2 separate regions of the Homo sapiens genome follow, and region 1 is linked to region 2. The links come from fine-mapping of genetic effects on gene expression. A gene starts in region 2. The other region holds a variant in brackets. All regions are shown on one strand. Distances are between the middles of the regions. Region 1 holds the start of MIR7973-2 (microRNA 7973-2). Region 2 holds the start of GLDN (gliomedin).

The links. PIP is the estimated chance that this variant, and not a neighbour inherited with it, causes the effect.
Region 1: its variant is the best candidate, but not a certain one, in a credible set for the expression of GLDN in sun-exposed skin (GTEx, PIP 0.57).

What each region holds. Positions count from the first base shown.
Region 1 is chr15:51,312,168-51,320,499 of GRCh38, reverse strand. All of the region lies in intron 1 of CYP19A1 (cytochrome P450 family 19 subfamily A member 1), which reads left to right. It overlaps MIR7973-2 (microRNA 7973-2), which reads left to right and starts at 6,393; the gene lies at 6,393-6,468. MIR7973-1 (microRNA 7973-1) reads right to left here and starts at 6,466; the gene lies at 6,391-6,466. It overlaps LOC112268146 (a long non-coding RNA gene), which reads right to left and starts at 572. Exons shown (of 2, transcript XR_002957708.2): 1 at 1-572. RefSeq lists promoters at 1,498-1,977, 1,292-1,977. The variant G/AG (reference allele first, on the strand shown) is at 4,323.
Region 2 is chr15:51,337,855-51,346,186 of GRCh38, reverse strand. GLDN (gliomedin) reads right to left here and starts at 4,532. Exons shown (of 10, transcript NM_181789.4): 1 at 4,140-4,532. The coding sequence starts at 4,502. CYP19A1 (cytochrome P450 family 19 subfamily A member 1) reads left to right here and starts at 7,591. Exons shown (of 10, transcript NM_000103.4): 1 at 7,591-7,692. RefSeq lists cis regulatory regions at 5,351-5,375, 5,448-5,491, 7,285-7,314, 7,379-7,396, enhancers at 5,181-5,544, 7,348-7,427 and promoters at 7,348-7,666, 7,089-7,666.

The sequences.
Region 1 (8,332 bases), 26 kb after region 2:
ACCTGGCACCTAACCATGTGCTGTTTTGTACTTGACTGTTGCTTACCTGTGTCTCTAAGTCCTTGCCTCAGCCAGATAAAAAGCCTTCTCAGGGCAATGCCATTGTATCCTGTCTGTTCTCTCCAGTGCTTACTTCACCCAGGGCTGGGGGTAGCAGGTGCTCCCTGGAACTTGGCAAACATCCTCATATTGGGAGGAGCTTGGCTGGTTTTCCTTGATCTCCCTCTTCCCAGTGTGTGGCTCTTGACAACTGATTGGACCCCAGACTTAAGGTAAGACTATACAATGTGATGCTCACAGTATGCACATGATGCAGCTGTGAGCAGGGATGGGAGCCGAGGATGGTGCCTGAGCACAGAGGGGAAGAGCATTGGATGGGGAGATTTGAGTTGGAAGGTCAGATCCTCAAAGGTCTACTCATTGGAGTCTCCACATCTGTGAAAGGAGGGGATGATATCTATCTCCTAGTGTTGTAGAAAGTAAGAGTTAATATACGTGAACAAATGATGGCTGGCATTCAAGTGTCGCTCTGTGACCCTCAGAAGGTGTTCACATCCATGAGCTCATCTGAACTTCACAGCAGGGCAGGCATTATTATAATTTCCATTGGCAGACAAGAAACCTGAGGTTCAGAGAATACAAATGACCTGATAGAGATCACCTGACTATTAAGGTAGAGCTGGATCTGGAGCCCAGCCTGACGTCTGCCACTGTCTTTTGCTGTCCACTTAAAAGAGCAGCTTGCACACGTGCAGGGCTACATAGGGTTCAAAGGCCTTTCATGCCCATTAACTGCTTATTCTTCCTAGAAGGATGCATAAGCCCAAAGTTTTGCTATATATGAAGACATGATTTTCATGAGATTCCTGCAGCCAATGAAGAAACAAGCCTTCAGTAATCATGTGGATCCATGGTTTAGTTGTCCCTTATGGGTGACAGGTGATGGGTTATGAGGATTAGATAAGAGCTGTTTGTAAGAATGTCTACAAGGTGCAGTGACAGGCTCTGGTCAGATATTTTGATCATGCTACAGTGCATGAAATTGTTCATAAGAATTGTATGTGCATCTGTATCTAACAGGATCTGCTTATATCTTCAGAAAACTTTGTCATAAATTTAAATTACTTAAAGTGTCTGATCTTCAGATACTTTAAGTAGTGCATTTGAGAATGGGAATGTTGATTACAGTGCGTATAGGGAAATAGATGAATATTCCATTAATAACTATTAAAATCTGCTAAAGCTTAGGCTAAGCTGAATATATTTAGTTGTAATAAAATTGGGTGAACACATTCCAACTTCAGCCTGATTAAGGGAAAGGGTGTAGGGGTGAGACACTTAGGCGGAGCTTGAAAAGGAATGGTGAGAGTTTGGCCAATGGGAAGGAAGGCTGTGCCAGACAGGAATAGTGTGGGCTGACGACAACTGAGGGCAAAGTGCTTGTCCCCTCATAGTTGCGCAATGAATGCAGAGGGGCTGAGGTTCATCTGTCGTCTTCAGCTCTGCAGGCTACATCTCAGGGTGTTTCCTGTGAAAGTTCCAGAAGAAAGCTGTATGGTCAGCTTGGGGAAATATGTGGTTCATGCTGGAATGCTGGACATACCACATTATTGGAAAGATGCACATTGAATGACCGACAAAATGAAACTCAACTTTCCAAATGCTGGTAATGAGAGAAGATTCTGTTCTAATGACCAGTTGTTTCCTGAAAGAATGTCAGCTCGATTCATAATGAATGCATTCTAACCATGACAGCCACAGTCAGGACACAAAAAACAAAGTGTCCTTGATCCCAGGAAACAGCCCTCTGGAATCTGTGAAATCTAGAAACTAGATTGGGAAAACTCTGACACCCCTGCCCCATGACCAACCAAGACTAAGAGTCCCAGGAAGATTGAGGTCACAGAAGGCAGAGGCCTGCCCCCTCTCCAGGAGATCCCTGACCCATGTGGGGTCATGGGCGGGGCATGAGTGATGTGATGGGAAACTGGCTCCTGGCTCCAAGTAGAACGTGACCAACTGGAGCCTGACAGGAGGTCCCTGGCACTGGTCAGCCCATCAAACCAGGTAAGTCCTTGGAGTCTGAGTAGGGACAAGAGACTGTTCTGTGCTTTGGCAGGGATCAGGAAGATGTTAGAATGTGGTTGTTGGAACTTATCTTTGGAGCTGAACAAACATGGCTTTGCATCTCCACTTTGCTATCAACTGAGTGGCTTTAATTAAGTGGCTTCATTTCTTAGATCCTCAGTTTCTTCATATTCACCTGTAAATTTTTTTTTTTACATTTTTAGACTGTTGAGGGCAGTAAATTAGATCATGTACATAAAGCACCGAGCACTGTGCTAGACACATTGGTACTTACTACACAGTGGGATAGCACCCCAGCTGTGACAGCCTTGTGAGGGGAGCTACACAGGAGGCCCAGGGAGAGTGCTCTGAGTTAAGGATAGGTCCAGATCCTACACTTCTAGCAACACCCAAAGCCCCCTCTTGAACATGTTGGGGTGTGATGGGGGTGGGGAGATACAGTCGTGTTCCCTGGCTGTGTCAAAGTGTGAAATCTTTATACTCCGTCTGCCCCAGATTCTCTCAAAGAGCACAGAATTGAAGGATAGCACTGGACCAAGTGTCAGGAGAATTGAGATGGGCTCTGCCACTCCCTGGCTGGGTGACCTTGGACAAGTCCTTCAACCTATTGAGGTCTGGGCTTCTTCATTTGTACATTGGAACAAGATTATCTGCTCTGTCACAGGATGAACTCCAGCCTCATTAGCCTGGCATTCAAGAACCTTCCATCATATTCCCTCACCACAGCTCCCATGAGTCCTCTTCATGCCCACATGGTTCTGCCATATCAAACTCTTCTGGGCCTTTCTTTCACCCCTAGACAGAATGTTCTTGCATTCTGTGTGGGGGTGAATGTTCTTGCCCAAATCTCTGTGTATCTAAAGCCCATATACCTTTGCATCCCCTGCAGCATCTTGCACAGGGGCTTGCATAAAGCAGATCATTGTTTTCTCAGTTAGGATTAGGTTTGGGGCAGGAAAACAAAAATAATATTTATTTAGCAAGTTAGAAGTGATTTTTCTCTTGCCGGGCGCAGTGGCTCACGCCTGTAATCCCAGCACTTTGGGAGGCCAAGGCAGGCCGATCACGAGGTCAGGAGATCAAGACCATCCTGGCTAACATGGTGAAACCCTGTCTCTACTAAAAATACAAAAAAAATAATAATTAGCCAGGCATGGTGGTGGAGGCCTGTAGTCCCAGCTACTCGGGAGGCTGAGACAGGAGAATGGCGTGAACCTGGGAGGCAGAGCTTGCAGTGAGCTGAGAATGTGCTATTGCACTCTAGCCTGGGCGATAGAGTGAGACTCTGTCAAAAAAAAAAAAAAAAAGAAGTGATTTTTCCCTTATGCCAAAAGAATCCTAAAAGGAGGGTAGCCCAGGACTGGGAAGGTGGCTCCTTGTGTTGGGGACCCATGCTCCCTCTGTCTTGCCACACCAGCACTCTTGGCACCCTACCTCATAGTCCCATATGGCTGCCTGGGTTTCAGACATCTTATTCTCATTTAGCCAGCAAAGGATGAAAAGGGCAAAGCATGCATTCTCTTCCTTAAGGGAGGCTTCCTAAATGCTGCACATGACACTTTTGCTTATAGCTTTTTGGCTAGAACTTAGTCACATGGTCATATCCAGCTGCAAGAGAGGCTGGGGAATATAGTTTTTAACTGCACATATTGCCATTCCTTCTTTCTTTCTTTTCTTTCTTCCTTTTTTTTTTTTTAAGAGACAGAGGTCTCCCCATGTTGCCCAGGCTGCTCTCCAACTCCTGGGCTCAAGCAATGCACCCACTTCGGCCTTCCAAAGAGTTGGGATTACAGGGGTGAGCCACCATACCTGGCCATATTGCCATTTCTAATAAAATTGATAGGGGAGACTGGGAGAACAGATATTCACAACCCATACAGTGCCTCTGCCACAGCTACTGAAAGAACCAAAAATATAAAAACTCACTAAGAAGTTTAAAGCCCTATCTAATATATGAGATTATTATTACAAAACACTTAACTCATTTTAGATAAGTTAATTGTCCTGACTTTTAGGTTGAAAACAGCCCAATTTTTCTTCACCTCTAGTGGAAATATGATGACATGTTTTTTCTTTTTTATTTTTTGTAGAGACAGGATCTCGCTATGTTGCCCAGGCTGGTCTTGAACTCCTGGCTCAAGCAATCCTCCTGTCTCAAACTCCCAAAGTGCTGGGATTAGAGACATGAGCCAACATGCCCAGCCAACATATTTTTTTCATAGAATAATAACTCA[G/AG]AGTTGTAAGTGAAGATAAATTATTAGTCCTTCCCCTTACCTTACCACATTTTACTACTGAGGAAACTGAACTCCAGTGAGGCTAAGTGATGTGCCCATGATGGCACAGCTGAATGGCGAAGGAACCAGAACTGGGACTTGAGTTCCTGGACTCCATCAGGGCTTTTTCCTTGATGAGCAGCCCATTCAGGTTCTGCTAACTGTCACTCGGAAGCCTTGAATTCTGTGCATCTCCTAACCCTGCGTGAGAGCCCTGCTCTGCCAGCACCCCTGGAGGCAGATCCAGGTCACCGTGTTGTCAGCCACATTCTTGCCAGCACGTAGTTCAAGTTTCCATCTGAAGAGAGGGAAACATGAAGAAATAGAGGAGCGTGCTATTAAAATAACGAGGCCTTTTTGCTAAGAGCAAACAATCACTTCCTTTCCTTGGCACCCAGAATCTGCAGGGCCCTGAATTAGGCACTGAAGGGAGATCCAGGGAAGCATGAGGAATAGTCACTGCCCTTGAGGGCCTGGATGTATAGGTTCATTCTACTTTTCATTCATTTATTCAAGAATTATTTCTTGAGCCTCTACCAACAGCAGACACTGAGCCTGGCACTGGGTTTAGAGCAAGAACCATATAACTGGGTATACAACAGTAAACTGTGCAGATATGGTTCTTGCTCTAAAATTGCTTGTAGTCTAGTGAAGGACAGAGGCAAGTAAACAAGCAACTACAAAATGAAATGAAGATTGCAGTGATGGGGAGGGGAGGGGGTACTCTGGGTGTAGACTGGGGTAGGGTGGGCAAGGCTGAGTGGGTGAGATATCATTACAGTGGAAACCCGAAGACTGAGTATGTGTGAGCTAAGCATGCACCATGAGGGGTCTGGCAGTTGGGACGGAAGTGTACTCCCCATGGAGAGAATGTGCAGAAGCACGCATAACCTTCTGACCGGACTGCAGCAGGCCTGGGTGACGGTGGTGGTGAAGGTGGGGAGTGTTGAGAAACACAACCAGCAAGGTAGGCAGGGGCCCGTAAGTGAAGGACTTTGAAAGGCCTGTTGGAGAGTTTCTGTGTTATCTCAAGGCCAGTGAGATAAAGGGCTTGAAGCAGCAGATTTGTATGTTAGAGTCCTCTGGCCTCGGGGTAGAGAGTGGATGAAAGCAAGCAGGATCGGATTCAGAGAGGTCAATTAGGAGCTGTTGCCAGGGACAGTGGCTTGAACCAGGAAACAGCCCAGAGAGGTGCAGAGAGGTTGAGGAATTTGAGACATCTTTAAGAGGTACAACCAACAGGTTTGGAGACTGGGTCGGAAGTAGGAAATGAGGAAAATGGAGGAAACCAACACTTATGAAGAAACAAAGACAGAGGCTGACAAACAAAAGCAATAGCCATTCTCCAGGAAGAAAATGGTGGCATGACCATGTGTTTTGAGCAAGGAAAAATTGCAATGGGCTAGAGAGATTTTGAAGGACTTTCTAGAAGAGTTAGAATTGGAGCTGGGTCTCCGACATGGGTAGGATTTTGGTGGGTAGAGAGGACATTCCAGGCTAAACAATGATGCAAGTTAGAGTTCTAAGGCAGAACAGTGTGTGATTTGTTTAGCATGATTTGGTCATGGTTTTCTTGGGAGAGTCCCAAAGAACTGATTCTCCAGGGGGTGTTACTAAAACTCTTATTGAAAGGAGGGACTACAGAGATGAATCTCATCACTCTCCCAGAATGGCACAGAGCTTTTCATGGACCCCCGGGCCACCTATGTAGGAACCTCAGGGGGTCTGTGGACCACTAAAAGCCCAACATGCCTGAGACTCCACAGATACTGGCTTCCACCATGATAAAGGCAAAAAGTCCCTCTTTCCCAAAATCAATACTTTTATTCTCATAGGCCTCCTGCTGTGGTCTAGTCCCCATGTTGAAAGCTGCTGTCCCAGGGTGTTGCTTCACTACTTCTAGGCTCCTGCAGAGTCCTGCCTCATAGGCCGCACTGGTGAGTGAGGCCAGCAAACCCATCAGGGAGACTACATGAATCCAAGGCCGTGGAAGACTTAGGTTTGGATATTCCCTCTGCTCCCTCCTGGCTGTGTGACCCTAGAATAATTACTCACCCTCTCAAAACCGAGACTCAGAGACGTTGGGTAATTATTCTAGGGTCACACAGCGAGGAAGGAGGAGAGGGAGTATCCAAACCTAAGTCTGTCTGACAGCAAAGCCTGTTCTCTCCATCTCTCCAGGTTCCTAAGCCAGGTGAGCGTTGAACCTTTCTTGAATCAAGGTTCCAATTCCAAGGTAGGAAAGCACAGTCAGTCAGGGAAATATTTACACTGAGACCACGCACCCCAGCCCTTTCCCAACCTGCTCTTGTGTGATCCTTTTGAGGTTTTTTGTTTGTTTTGAGATAGAGTCTCACTCTGTCGCCCAGGCTGGACTGCAGTGGTATGATCTCAGCTCACTGCAACCTCCGCCTCCCAGGTTCAAGTGATTCTCCTGCCTCAGCCTCCTGAGTAGCTGGGATTATAGATGCCCGCCACCATGCCCAGCTAATTTTTGTATTTTTAGTAGAGATGGGATTTCACCATGTTGGCCAGGCTGGTCTTGAACTCCTGACCTCAAGTGATCCCCCCACCTCAGCCTCCCAAAGTGCTGGGATTACAGGCATGAGCCACTGTGCCTGGCCTTAAGTTTTTTATAGATGGGAAAACCGAGGTCCAAACGTGAGCAAGGGCTCTGCATGCTACCTCTCTATTTTCTCAGCCCCTTCTGCAGGCTCCATGCCATAAGAACATGGCTCCTAAGGTTCAGGCCTATGGCCCCAGTTTAGGTGGTGCCTCTGCTCTGCTCCCCACCACCCCAGCCTCCTATTTGAAGGCCAAGACTACTCAGCTTTGATTCAGGTTGAATGAGTCATCAAGGGTAAAACAAAGAAGAGAATAAAACAAAGAAGAGAAGGCCTATTCCCTTGCAGATGAAATCAATCCACTCACCTTTTGACATCTTTTTGTTCTAGAATGATGACAGTATGCAATGACTCAGAATCATCACACTCACAGAGACTACTTTGTATTTTTTCTTGCAAATGAAGAGACAATATGCCCAAAAAATGAGCTGAAAATGGCTCATGAAGGGAGGGAAGATGACCTCCAGCACACCAGGGCAGAGTGGGGGCCACATGAAGGTGCAAGAGTGGGAGGGAACCACAACGCCTTGGCAGAGAGGAGAGCAAGTGGGGGCCAAGCCACAAAGCTCTTCAAGGCCAGTCAACAGTGAAACCTGAAGGAGTCCCATCCATCCCCAAGTCTGCTTGAGTTAAAGCCCTGCACCCTCACAAGCAGCTGGAGGGAGGGGAGGAAAGATATTTTCAAAAGAGCCATCATATATGGGGTGTGGGAAAGAAAAACTTGCTGCGTCTAACACCAGAGAGCCTCTCCAAGCCAAGCCATCTGCCTCAGGGCAAAGGAGGGAATGGAAGCGGGAGAGAAGGGTTTGGAGCCAGCTCTCAGCAACATGTTTCTATCTGGAGAAATGAGCTGAGAAGATCTGAATCTTCTCCAGCCTGTTCTGCAAATGTGGGATAATCGGCCCCTGGCCCAAAGGCTGGTGCTCACAGCGTGGCTCCGGCATTACCCAGGACTTTGGTTCTTGGTGATGGGAAAGAGGACAAATTTGGAAGCCAGAGAAGCTAGGGCTGGATGGTCTGGAGGAAAACCTCCACTTCTCTCAGACTGTTTTTTCTGAGGAAACAGATGATTGCAACCTCAGAGGTTGGGAGGATGAAATGATGTAATGCATCTGGAGCTGCTCTGTAAACTGTAAAATGCTATGCAAACGGTGCTTGTTAATGTGTTTACATATATGGGTGAGTTAACATAGTCTGACAGACTGGACGCCAAACTCAGAGTCCAAGGCAATGGGGCATTATATTCTGTGCCTTAGCATCTGGAAAACATGATGAAATTGGAAATGCATTTATTGAAAATGAAAAGTTTTCTACAGAGCTTCCTGTCCTTTCCAATGAATTCCAGGC
Region 2 (8,332 bases):
AATCCCAGAAAAAAAAATCTATTGATAGTTTTATGTTGGGATGACATCAGATTTCTAAGTTAACTTTCAGTTAACTTATTATGATGCTAAGTTTTCTATCCAAAAACATACTATTTTTACCATTTGGTTTAAATATTTTCTGTTCTACAAGAGTGGTCCCCCAGCCCTTTCTTAACACAAAAGGTAAGTATATAGATACACACACAGGTTTTGCACATCTTTTCTTCCATTATATCTTTCAACAGATGATTGTTTGGGTATAAGAAGTCTATTGATTTCTTAGTAATATTTTAATACCTTGTTTCCCACTGAATTCTGTTATTTTTAGTAGTAGGTTATCAACAGATTTTCCAGGTATATAATCGTATGATCTGAATATAGCCAGACTCTCACTTCTTAACATATTTAGACCATTTTCCCTTGTCTTGTTGCTCTGGCTGGTCCTCCTAGGACAATTCGAGATACTATTGGTGATAGTGGGCATCCCTGTCTTAATACTGATTTTAGTAGGACCATCTCCAGGATTTGACAGTTCAGTGGAAAGCTATAGTTTTGGGGGTGAGACACAATTACATTTTATCATGTTAAGAAAGAATACATTGATTCCCATTTTATTGCATGTTTTAAAAATCAAGCATTGATGTTAAATTTTATCAAATGCCTTTTCATCATTTGACTATTATGGAATCATATTTGCCTTCCTTAAAAGAACATTTGAATTGTAACTCCTGCTTTAAAGTAGCCAGGCTGATTTTCTTGTTAGAGAGGTGCCAAGGACATTTTGAACAATATCCTGGGCGTAGAAATGCATACAGTCCCTCAAGGACAACAATTATCATGGATACGTAATCACCAGTCTCAGTGTCTTATATCTTCTCTATGTTTGTTTAATTTATGAAAATATTTATGAAACTCCCTCTGGGTGCTTGACCCTAGATTTTGGACAAGTAAAGACAGGATGATAAAGCTACCAGAACATCAGCAAATGTGAGACAGGAAGAGAGGAATGAGAGAGGGTAGCTGATGGGAAGAGAACAAAAAGAATATGAGAGGAGGTCAGAGAAAAAGAGAGTAAACAGAAGTAGCATCTCCCACAGGAGTTAGTAGCAGATGGGTCAAATTTTCTCTCTCCCCGCTCACCAGATCCCCATTTCCTTATTGGCCTAATTCAGTAGTTTCCAAGCCCCATCCAGGGCTCCTCTTATTACTGTCTCCCAAAAGTATGCACATGGTTTTAAAGATTTAATGTGCTTCTTGGCTGTGTCAAATTAACTGTACTTAATAATTATCTTGCCTTTTTAATGAAGTCATTTACAGCTGCCAACCAGGTTCTGGTAAGAATGTGCTCAGCTAAACAGAATTCTTATGCTGAGTTGATGTATTTTCAGCCAACAGTAGAGAAACTCAAAGTATCAGTTAAATTGAGGTTCATCTTGGATAAATGAACCATTCTGGAAGGCTTTTTGAAATGTTGACATTAGTCTGCATAGAGTTTGTTTCTTCGTTCCTAGACCTCTAAGGACATAAGACCTCACAGTGAGGACCTTGGATCTCACTCTCATTCAAGATCTGGTGGTGTATAAAAGGGCCAGGGAAGGTGTAGCCTTCACCTATAAGAAGTGTATACACTTGCCTCCACGATATATACTAGATCATTCTCTTAACTTCTCTCCAAGAGCTACCAAATGATGTTTTTTATAAAATTGTTTTCTTATATGAATAATTGTTCTGAGAAAAGCAGAGAGTAAAGATGAGGAAAACTGTGAAGCTGAATGGAAAGAATATTGCTGTCATAAATTAAAAAGCTTTTCAGTAATAAAATTGGCTCCTCGTCCTGAAGCAAAGGCCTTGATGGGGTCTGGTGGGAGTGTGATGCCTAACACAGCTACTATCGATAGGAAGTTATGCCAAGGTCCTTCCTGCTGGAGAATAAGCACTCCATCCCCAGGCTGTGGCCTAACAAATTAATTCAGAATCTCTGGGGATGGGATTCAGGCATCAGTAAGTTTGAAAGCTCCCCAAATAGTTCCAGTAGGCAACCTTACTACTCAAAATGTGGTCTTCAGGCCAGTAGCATTGGTAGCAGTGGGAGCTTGGTAGAAACGCAGAATCTTAGGCCCCAGCTTAGACCATCTGAATCAGAATCTGCATATTAACAAGATCCCCAAGATATTCCTGTGCACAATAAAGACTCAGTGTTAGAGACTGAGTAGTATTTCTTAAAGTGTGGTGCCTGGACCATCTGCACCGAACTCACCAATGGCATAGGAGGTGGGGGGATGAGGGTCAGAGGACTTCTAATAAAGCAGATTCTGGAGAGGATTCTATAGGTCTGAGGGAGAGGCCCTGGAATCTGCACTGTAATATGCTTCCAGCTGATTCCTAAGCCTACTGTTTGAGAACTGCTCCCAAGAGGAAAGTGAGTAGTAAGATGATTGCCTTCTCCTAGCCTCAGGGACAGGCCCTCATGACTCTAAAAGGTCAAAACATACCCATTGCAGGTGGGGGATGAGTTAGTTGATGATAATCTACTAATAATATCCAGTCTGACACATGTGATAGTTCTGCTCTCTGACCTGTAACAGAGTTAGTGGTAGCACTGCGAGGTCACCTAGAGTTAATTTGACACAGAGATGAGTGTCTCCATTCAATTTGTTAGTGACGGAATAGGTTGCAATTCGGATACGAAAGCTTCTACCTTAAAAGCAGGATTAAAAATGTAAAACAATGATGCTCAGATGTATCCCTTTTTGAGGATTTTTTAAAAGCCTTAAAATGTAGGGTAGAGAGCTGAAAGGGCGAGAATGAATTCCCCTAAGGAGGTTTTTTTCATCTTATAGCAGTCCTTTTTTGAAACTTCTGCTTAGGTCCAGATTTTTAAATGATAACATGAATTTAAAAAACAAATGAAGTGAGGAATGGAAAACTTGATCTCTCTCAAAAGATGTATTTGAAGTATGTAGTACTTTTACGTAGTTTTAAAAGCATTTCAGCTCATGTAAGTTATTTAAAAGCTTCTGTGATAACGGAAGTTTAAGTCAATTTATTTTCAAATACCTAGGATTCTGAAGTATGGCTCACACTTGACTGGAGGTAATAGCCGAAATCTTTCTAATTATAAAGTGAAACAAGACTGTTGCAATTGTAATAAATAATGAAATGGAATGGGGAACTGCAATGTGATCTAATAGTATTTGTTAAATACCTATTGAATTAAAAGCGGCAAAAGCAAAGAAACTTAACACTGGAAAACAAATCTTTGAGGCTTTGAAGACTTTCTTCAGAGCAGTGTTTCTTAAACCTTTTGGGGGAGGCATGCAATGGGGGACCCCTTGAAGATCTAGTGAAAAGCTGCAGACCCTCATCCACATGGGCAGGAGGGCACAGGCACACACACTTGGCAATTTCTGCAGTTCCGTGTACTCCCTGGAGCCCAGTGGGGAGACCAATCCGCAGGTCCCATGTTAAGAACCTCAGCTTTGACACTGCATTTTAAGAAAAAAATTGCACCATATTGACGTCCCTCATTTGGAATTGCTTGAGATCCAGGGGCAACTTTCCCAGCATCTAGGTCCCAGGTGGGCAGTAAAACTAGGGCTGTTTTCACTTAAACGGAAACAATTAGGCCGGCCATCTCGCAGGAATGAGGCGATGCCAGGTGAAAAGCCAGACCACTAGTTGATGCCAGGGAAAGAATCCCTTTATTGAAAAAGCCTACGCTCTTTCAGAAACGCGCCTCCATCCTCTCAGAGGGCCCCACCCACAGGTCAGTGGCACAGGCGGAGCCCCAAGGCTGCTGCGGCTCCATTCACACCAGGAGACGAAAACTTGTCTAAGCTGAGAAGGAAAATAGGCTCTTAGAAACACTGCCTTCGCCCTTCGTTTACATGTGGACTCAAAGAATGTCAGAGGTAGAAGAGACTCCCTCCTTCACCCTGTCCCCAACCTCACAGATGAGAAAACAGACTCCAGTGGGTTGAGGTGCTTGCCAAGGTGACATCCCCAGCTACTCATGCCCACAGCCCTCTCCGCAGCACCTCGCAGCCTGGCCAGGGGAGAAGAGGGCGTCGGCGTCCTCGCCCCACACCCCCAGCCGCCCACCTGGCCGGGGCGCCACGGGGAACAGAGACCCCGCCTACCGGCACCATGGAGTAGGTCATCATCATCAGCATGTCATGGCTCTCGGCGCGGATATGCGGCGCGGGCTCGCCGCTGTGGCTGCGCTTGTTGCGAGCTGAGCTGGCCGGGTCTTGGGGTGGTGCGGACGCCCCGCGCGGCGCGCGGCTCAACTCGGCCAGGAAGGAGCGCAGGGCACTGTCCTCGCGCTGCTCCCGGCCCCGCTGCGCCTCCAAAGCCCGCAGCGCCGAGCTCAGCCCGCGCCACTGGCACAGCGCGAACACCGTGCCCGCAGCGTTGAGCGCCGAGAGCAGCGCCACGGCCGCCAGGGCGCCACGCAGGCCCCAACCCGCGTCCCCACGGCCTCCCTCAGCGCCTCGGGCCATGCTCTATGCGCCTTGGGCAGGGCAGGGCTTGGCAGCCTGCGGCCCTGGCAGCCTTTATACGCCTCGGGCAAGCCGTGGGCTGGTGGCAGCGTCGTGAGTCAAGTCACCCTTTGGCCCAGCTGGCGGGGCGGGATGGGGACAGTAGTGGTGGCGCCCGAGCAGCCCAGAGGGACAGGCGGGCAGAAGCAGGAGAGGAGCCAGTGGAGGCAGCCTGCGGAGGAGGGGCTGGCAGGGCTCGTGCTCCCAGAGTCCCGCCAGCTGAGCAAACCCTCTCCTCCTCTTCCCACTGCTCTGCCTGAGGGCATTGCCGTGGCCCAGACAGGCAAAGCAAGGGTCAGACTGAGGGGGAGAGCAGGAATTCTTATGGAGAGAAGTCTCCGGATTCCACCCCCTTCTACCCCCACACTGCCCTCTTGGAGAAAAAGATCAGCATGCCCAGATGCTAAGGCACGTGCCCACTGTCCATGGGAGGTCTGGTCCTGGCCCGAGCACCAGGCTGCGCATCACTCCCCACCATGGCCATGAGGCTCCACGAGGCCACTGAAGACCCCAGATGATCTTTCCCAGGAAGGGGATGGATAGGGGCAAGGAGACACTTGGCACTGGAAGGCAAAAAAGGCCACCCATCAGAACCAGAAAAGCCCAGGACTGCCTGGCCAACAGGACTCGTCCTTGAAAGGAGAGTTCCAGGATTTGACAAGTCAGGAACTCTCCGATGAGATCCATATCTGGAAAATGGCAGGATGGTGAGGAAAAAAACCCCAGGAATCAGGAGACCTAGTTCTAAAGCCACTCTGTTGCTACTCAGCTGGGAGGCTTTGAGCATGTCCCAAGACCATGAGGAGGTGCTTTCTGGCCTAAGGGTTGGAGAGCTGGGCCATGGTTGGGTTCTTACCTAGCCCTAGGAAAACATGTTTTCCCATGCCTCTCATTTACTCCTCACAACTTTTATGTTGCCCAATACCTGCTCTGCCTCGAGGGTCACTGTCAACCAAATGCAGAGTCACTTTTGAGTCTCCTCAGAGAACCTCTTCACTCAAGATCTTTCTCAGCTTCTCCTAGAATGGCTCTGCTTCCCTGGGGCCCCAGGACCTATGGGAAACTAACGTAGACAGCAATCTTCAAGCCCCATGTTAAGAACCTCGGGTTTGACATTGTTTAAGAAAAAAAAAAAATCACTCTGTTTGGATGTCTCCCATTTGGGAGACCCAACCAGAAGGCAGGATTGCTGTTTCCATAGCCCAATAACTCAAGGAAGAGGTGCCTCCCCGCCAATGAGCCAGCTGGAGCAGTTATAGAGAAAGGACTTCCTCTATCAGAGACCACACTGTTTCAGCACCTGAGGGAGACCAGTAAAATGATCAGAGAGCAAGCTCCTTTTGACTTAATGGTAGGAGCTCTGTAACCATCTACTCCCCAAAGATTCACATTCTGATGTGGTTTGGATCTGTGTCCCCACCCAAATCTCATGTTGAATTGCGATTCCCAGTATTGGTGGTGGAGCCCAGTGGGAGGTGACTGGATCATGGGAGTGGTCCTTCATGAATGGTTTAGCACCATCCCCTCAGTGCTGTTCTCATGATAGTGAGTTATCATGAGATCTGGTTGTTTAAAAGTGTGTAGCATCTCTCCTGGCCCCTCTTCCTCCTGCTCCCACCATGTGAGATGTTCCTGCTCCTGCTTTGCCTTCCTCCATGAGTAAAAGCTCCCTGAGGCCTCCCCAGATGCAGGTGCTGCCATGCTTCCTGTTCAGCCTGTGGAACCATGAGCCAATTAAACTTCTTTTCTTGTAAGTTACCCAGTCTCGGGCTTTTCTTTATAGCAAGGCAAGAATGGACTAATACACATACCAATTCTTGCAGGTAGGATTTTTTGGCACAGGAGAGAAAGCTGAGTAGTATCAGACTTCTTGCCCCCTACTCTCCAGGGTGAGCCAGGGTAGAGCCTCTGAGAATGCACAAGGAAACTGAAGTGACATCTCAATCAGAAATTCTGAGTCAAAGTTTAGATTCCTGAGTTTTAATAGGAACATTGACCAACTTCAGTATTCTTAGAAGAGCATACAGGATAAGAAGAAATTAGGAAAGCATGAAGGTCCAAGTGTTTCATAAAGTACCCCCACTGTGGGGATATGATGACTGGGAGGGGATGGCAGTGATGTAAAAAGCTTTGTCCATTTCCTCCCAACTCAAACGTTCTGTGACCTACTTGAAGAACTGTCATGTATCCTTATCTCTTTTCATCCAGGTATCAGGTTTAGGGCCAATGGGGAGGAGCCACTGAGAGGGAGGGTTGACACTCAGCATCATTCAGATCTTCATTTAATTCAGTAAACACTTAACTGAGCACTTCCTGTGCCTGGTATGATAATGGGCATTGGAGATACGGAAGTAAAAAAGACAGGCAGATTACCCTGTGAGCAGCTGGAACACCGTGGAGCCTTCTGGGCTTCTCTTTATCCTAACATTCATTGCAGTTACTGTTGACTGATCATCTCTCAGCAATACCCACCATTAACCATGGAATAGAAGCCTCCTGAGGCTAGGGGCCATGTCACCCCCAACACATAGCACAGTTCCTGATTTGGAATTCACTATTACCCGTTGAATAAATGAGTGAATGAACGAATGAATAAATGAAAAGCTGTATAGTGAAGGCACTTCTATGTAGAACAATGTGGTGTGTGGTGGGGGGTGTGATCTTATGATTACATGTATATAGATTTTTGTCCATGGTTCTTGTCCATAACTCCCATGACACTTGCTGAGGTCTTTTGCTATAATGTAGAGGTGCTTTAGGCCTCAGGAAACAGAATATTTCTCTGGCCTTCTTTGCCCTCCTTTCATCCACCCAAGGCGGGACTCTATAATCTGATTGTGGGTCATAAGACCCTCATTCCAGAGGAGGTCATGCCCCATACCCTGGAGGAAGGAATGCTGCACAAAGAGAGGAAGAAGAATCTGGACAGACAGACCTTGCTGAGATTAGATCATACCCTTTTTGTCCAATCACATTTTGTTCAATCACATGCTTCAGTCATGGACAACAAATGAAATCTCCATAAAAGGCCCAAAGGACAGGGTTCAGGGAGTTTCTGGAGGGCTGAACACGTGGAGGCAAACAGGAAGGTGAAGAAGAACTTATCCTATCAGGACGGAAGGTCCTGTGCTCGGGATCTTCCAGACGTCGCGTATGTATCTCTTAATCTGACTGAGCCCTCAACCTGTGGGATCAGACACTCTTTCCAGGTAGATAGTGTTGGAACTGAGTTGGAGGACACCCAGCTGGTGCCCGCTGCTTGGTGTGTGGGGGAAAATCCCCTACATTTGGTCGCAGAAGTCTTCTGTGTTGATGACTGTTGTCGTGGTGTGAGAGCAGAGGGAAAACACTGCTTGAGTGTTTTTCTGAAATAGGAGGGCCTAAGAACTATACTGTTCTATGCCACAGAACTGGCCCCCTACTTTCCTTGAAAGGCTGGCTATCCAATGGTGAGGAGAGGAAGTGGTAGCCTGAACCAGCCTCCCCATTTCCCCACCTCCCACCCCAGTTCAGAGCCCAGATCCAGTAGACAGAGCAGAGATGAGGCCTGCTTGGAGCCAGGCAGGCTCTATTAGACAACTTCAGGCCAAGAAGCTGCCCCTCTTGGGATGCAGGACTCAAAAGGCTTGTAGCATGGCCACCCCGTGGGCTGGGTTGGTGGAAAGCCTGGGATATTGCTCTGGGGCAAGAGGGGCAGAAGGAAGCGCAAATGAAAAGCCAGACTCCTTTCCTACCAGACTCCACTGTCAGATCCCTCTCCAACTCTTCCTGTGTGGGATGATGGCATTTTT